Regions from separate parts of the Homo sapiens genome. Here region 1 is linked to region 2. Evidence: fine-mapped expression QTL. A gene starts in region 2. The other region holds a variant in brackets. All regions are shown on one strand. Distances are between the middles of the regions. Region 1 overlaps HMGCLL1 (3-hydroxy-3-methylglutaryl-CoA lyase like 1). Region 2 holds the start of HMGCLL1 (3-hydroxy-3-methylglutaryl-CoA lyase like 1).

Region 1 (2,922 bases), 150 kb after region 2:
CTTGACTTGAATGGATTTATGACGTACCGTTGAGAAGATCAATTTCAGCTACAATACTCATCTGAAAATCATTAATGCCAACTTGCTCTGATATGTGAAGTAATGGACAAGAGTGGGAAAAAAGAGATCCTTTTCAAAAAGATTATAACTGGATAGATTAAGTCAACAAAATGCAATATCAGTCATCAGGTAAATTGCAAGCTGAGGATAAATAATAAAACTTGTCATAATTTTGAACTTGGAAAAAAGTTTCTTTTGCTCTCATAGAAATAACTTTTTAATTTAGTAGATGGGAAAATTGACTTCGTATTTCCCCAAGTATCAAATACTGTGTTAATACTTAATCAAGCAGGCTTAACACTGTGTACATATTGTCAGTAGTTTATGAGCTCCTGCATAGTATGCAGAGTGTGTGGCCTCAATATTATACATTATGCCTCTGGATCTCAACTACTCATTTGCCAAGTCAGTTATGTTATGGACCAAAAGCCAAATCTCCATCTGACCCTACATAATTTTAGCAATAGAACTTTTATATTTCAAGTATGGCTAACATCTGTTAACTATTTCAGTGACTTTATCTGGTTCCAAGAGGCTGTGGCCAATGGCAAGATGCCATATCCTGGAAACATATTACGACCTCCCATGTTTGTTACATGCATCCAGTTTACCACACTTTACCTGTCATCAGTTATAGTAAAAACCAGCATGGTGTTACTCAACTATTGAGAAATTGTAAGCTATTTTTTTTTGTCCTGATGTCTAAATTGCAGTGATAAGAATAGGTTGATACATGTATCATAATCTACCTTTATAATTTTCAGATCACTTTCAAATTGCCCAAGGAAATATTGTGATCCTAAGAATATTAAGATAATTTTAGGTTAATGAAATACCCATTTTCCTTTTATTCATGGTGCTTTGCTTACCCACATTATTTTTTGGTGTATTTTTTAGTGGTTATTTTAGAAGTTGAAGTGGCTGAAATTTTGTCTATTGTCTTAGAATTGATTGCCAGAAATTGCAAGATGTAATATATCAAAGTCAGGGATGAGGAGCAGGAGGACTATTCAAGATAAACTTCTGTAACCTATGCATATTTTATGGGGGCAGTATTATTACAAATGGATCTGAAATGTCAGTTCTAGTATTTAGAGAGACTTCTCTAATAATACCGGGTGATATTATCTTTGAGTAAATTTGAATATAAATTGAAACATAAAAATGAGTATTGTGAACTTTCT[A/C]GGAAATATTCATTAAAACCATTGAAATAAAAATAAATTCAAGAAAGTAAGAAGTACTGATTATGTTGCATGGTTCTGGAGCAGGAATACTGAGAGCAATTCTCTGTTTTGGGCTTAATGTTTGTGGGTTGGGGGAAATGCAGGGAGCAGACAAAAATCAAAGCTGGTTATGAATCTTTTTCAGTTACATCTCCCTGTGCATCTCTCTTCACGAAGCACATGACCCTGCACACTGGCAGTAATGGGACACCTGCAATTAGCGTGTACAACTGGATACGTACCCCATATTCTGAGGAGACTGACTTCCTATCTCTTACAATGCTATGCTGTTCCTAATTTCAGATATTTGGAAAAGCATCTCTTGTTACAAACTGCCCATAGTAACAACTAAGGGGATGATGGGAAAGCATTGCTGTTTTGAAATGAAAACCATGGACTTTGAAAGACAGAGCAAGTAGTCAGAAACTCCAAGTACAGTCTACAGCACAGTTACATAGCATCCATATCAGTGTACTGAGTCACTTCCATGAATACCTTGATGCTACTGAATCACATTTAGTATGAGAAAGCTTGTTGTAGGTATTTGGTATCCTTTCTCCACACAAACCATCTAAATCCCTTTGATAGTTTAAGAGAGTTTCTTTTCTGGTTTTATTTTCTCCACCTTATTTATCTTTTGGCCTCTTCCTTCTTATGTTTGACTGCAGACTCACAAATGCACAGTTGCCTTCATTCTTGCAACTCAACATGTGGTCCAAGACCAGCAGGATAATCCCCTGGGACCTTTTGAGAAATAGAATCTGAGCCTTCACTCCATACCCATTGCATCACAGTTTGCATTTTAAACAAGATCCTTACGTGACTCATATGCAGATTAACTTTGAGAGGCACTTGCCTATTTGATACCTCCTCTTGGGTATCCAACAGGCATCTCGAGCTTCATATATATTCAAAATTCTTGTACCATTTTTCACTTTGTGCACTGTAGTCTACCCCACTGTCTTCTCTGTTTTTGGAACAAGGCACACTCAGATCCATCTCAGGTCCTTTACCTTAGTTTTTTTCTGTGTCTGTTTCCCTGGCTCTTTCCCTGGGCATGTTTGGCTCCCTCTTGTCATTGAGGTCTCAGCATAAATTTTACCTCCTTAATGAATCTTCCTGGACAACTCAGTTTAAAGTAAGTCCTGTTACATTCTCTCACATCAACTCATTTAATTATTAATTATAGAATTTTTACCTTCTTGTTTGTTTATTCTTTCTTTTTCCAACAGAATATATACACCTGAGAGCAAGGGGTTTGCTATCTTCTTCACTCTTAGTTCCGCAGTGCCCAGAACATAGTGCTAGGGTCTAGCACTAAATACCAATAAATGTTAGAGTGAAGAATAGAAACGGGTTTAATTCAGACATTTGGGAATTGAAGGAAGGAAACTATTCTGCATGAACTCTGTTTTCTGAATATATACATATATATTTCCTGAGCCCTTAATAGATTTTTAAGGTTTATTTGTTCCAGTTTATATGTTGAATGATTGAATTAAGGAATGAATGCCTGTATACACCAAAGAGGTTGTTAAGAAATGTTGGATAAACCAAAATTGTAAGGGAAATACATATCTTTTTAAGCAGAATAAAGTAAAAGTGAAACTGCTGGAATTGATAACAACAAATGGACAAT
Region 2 (2,922 bases):
TACAGCTAATAGATTTAGCTCTATGAATGTACACCTATATGATAGTCATGCTTAGGTAAATAACAACCGGAGTTTTGGTGCTTTACAGAGTTTTAAGCGCATCCAGGAATTGGATAACTTCACTTTAGCAGTTCAGGGAATGTTCTCCAGGTTAAACATCCGGCTGGGCGCGGTGGCTGACCCCTGTAATCCCAGCACTTTGGGAGGCCGAGGAGGTCAGACCACGAGGTCAGGAGATCGAGACCATCCTGGCTAACGCGGTGAAACCCCGTCTCTACTAAAAATACAAAAAATTAGCCTGGCGTGGCGGCCGGCGCCTGTAGTCCCAGCAGCTGGGGAGGCCGAGGCAGGAGAATGGCGTGAACCTGGGGGGAGAAGCTTTCAGTGAGCCGACATCGCGCCACTGCACTCCAGCCTGGGCGACAGAGCGAGACTCCGTCTCAAAAAAAAAAAAAAAAAAAAAAAAAAAGAAAGAAAAAAGAAAAAAAAAATCCTTGGTTAACTGTGAGAAGAAGACTATGACCTCCTCATCCTCTTTGCCCTTTCTAGTGCAGTTTTACCGAAGGATCTACACGATTTCTCTTCCACTCTTTGTCTTTTTCCTCCCTTAACCCATTTATTTTTATTACCTGTGGAAGTCTCACTGCCCACCCCCCAAACCCCCACCCATGCAACACACAAGTGGTAAGGATGGTTTGACTTTGAATGGTAAATTTCTTCTGTGTGTTTATACTACGGTGTGCATCGGTTGGCTCCTGGTTTACATTTGCTCCATCAGCCACCAGGGCTGATGCGTATTCCTGGCCATGGACACCCTGGCTGGGTCTCCGGAAGACCCTAGGTATCCTGCACGAGACTATTCTTGATGACTATGTCATTTTAGCTGCAAACCACTGAACCCACTGCGAAGATTATTAGGGTGTGACAATACACGTAAGTTTACATGTGAAAGTGAGGGGGGGAAGGTAGGCCGGTGGTCTGCTCGAAGGCTATTTTTTCAAACCCTCTCTTCCACTAAAAATGTCTCCAATTCTAATATCCTAAGAACTTGTATAGAATTTTCCGTTTGGATAAATCTAGTCCTTAGGGCTTTAATAATTTTGTGCCATGAGACTTTTAAACACGCAGTTCCATTTCAGCGCTTAACCGCAGCACCAACTTACAGCTTACCTCTCATTTAGGAACGTACCTCTGAGAGTACCTCTGACATGTAACCTAATTTAAGACTATCTTTTCCTTTTCATTAGACTGTTGGATATGTTTTAACCTTGCTGATTGCCTCAAAAACATTTTTAAATAGAGCTTATTGTTATAAAGCATAAACTCCGTGAGCTCAACGGTAGGCAAATCTACACTTGAGCACCCAAGGCTGCAGCTGGGAATGAACGAACTCATCAACATAAACACTCACGCCCCTTCCTTTTATTTTAGACCCCTTTTCTTCTACACCTGATCTATGCCAGGTGAGAAGTAGGTGGGCACGTTAAGATACAGTCAGCCCTGGGCGCTCAGTGTAGTGCGGAAAATGAGACACCCCTGGACATCCTCTGGCTCAGCTCCTTTCTCTCCTGTTCAGGTGCTCGGCATTTCTGTCGATTCCCGCAGGTGCCCCGTGCACCCGCTGCCCCAGGCGCGGCCACCTGCCACGCCCCACTCCCCGCCCTCTCGGCGCCGCCGCAGTGCGCAGAACAGCTCTGGTCCTCACAGCCAGTGCACCGGAGGGGCGCGCTCCCGAGCTGGCGCAGTTTCCCAGCGCGGTGCCCGCCCCTCATCCTCCTCCAGTCTCCCTCCCCTCGCCGACTGCCGCCCCAGGCTCCGCCATGGGGAATGTGCCATCCGCGGTGAAGCACTGCCTCAGCTACCAGCAGCTTCTCCGGGAGCATCTCTGGATCGGGGATTCAGTGGCAGGGGCGCTCGACCCCGCGCAGGTACCACCTCGCGGCCCAGGGTGTCCCCACCCTCATGCGCACACTGACAGCCAGCCTCTCTCCCTGCAACCTCTTGGTGCCCTCCTCCCTTTATGTCACCTCCTCACCCCAGGACCCTTCCCGCAGCAGTTCTGTCGTGTTAGGCCGCACCCCTTAAACGGTTTCCCGTTATCTCTCTTCGGTGAATGTATCGACCCGCCTCTACAGATCAGACCCTGCAAAATCCCTGCCTGTGACCATTTGCTGGTCGCCTAAAGAAAAGAATTCCTTCTCTGTGTTTTCCTGGAAAGGGATGCATTACGTAATACAATTTGTATTCATAGGTATTCCTTCAAGGATACCGCCCTTATTCTCAGTGCTCCTTGTACTGTGTAACAAAGACTACAAATTTGTCACAATGTGAGGCAGAAAAAGGAATGAAACCGGTAGAAGGTTAAGAAGACATAGTAGGATGAAATAATCCATCAGAACATTAATTATCCCAAATGTATTTGTGCTTCAACAAACTTGAAAGAAAGTGTAAATAACAGCAATTTCAGACTAAAATTTATTCCCACATTGTTCCTGAAAGGGCATGTTAAGACAATAGGCAACTTAATATTATTCATATACTTATGATTTAATGCACTCTTAACCAGTGTCAGATAAATAAAGAAAAGGTGTATAAAGAAATTAACTTTTTCCTTAAAAAACTTGAAAATCTAAAATTCCACAAAATATTAAATAACTGATAATTGTTATGAAAATGTTGAAACATGGAATAAAGGAGGAGCACTGTGAGGACTTCTTGTTAAATTACAGGTGCTGGATACAAGATTATTTCTGATTCGACTAGTGAACAAAATAACTTCTGTTATTGTAATATTTTAGTCATTAAGCATAATTGTACCATGTGGATTTAAATCAACTATTCTAATATAAAATATTCATTTTCTATTGTGTATTCTCAGTTTAGTGTATCATATGTGAAATTGCAATCTTATCTTTACAAATT

The links.
Region 1: its variant is fine-mapped to the expression of HMGCLL1 in prefrontal cortex (BrainSeq, PIP 0.95). The same link has a PIP of 0.9 or more in cerebellar hemisphere and cerebral cortex.

Annotation. Positions count from the first base shown.
Region 1 is chr6:55,432,745-55,435,666 of GRCh38, reverse strand. It overlaps HMGCLL1 (3-hydroxy-3-methylglutaryl-CoA lyase like 1), which reads left to right. Exons shown (of 9, transcript NM_001042406.2): 9 at 1-1,294. The coding sequence ends at 5. Among named protein-coding and RNA genes, the nearest start is that of GFRAL, 110 kb to the right of the region's middle. The variant A/C (reference allele first, on the strand shown) is at 1,245.
Region 2 is chr6:55,577,954-55,580,875 of GRCh38, reverse strand. HMGCLL1 (3-hydroxy-3-methylglutaryl-CoA lyase like 1) reads left to right here and starts at 1,684. Exons shown (of 9, transcript NM_001042406.2): 1 at 1,684-1,928. The coding sequence starts at 1,821.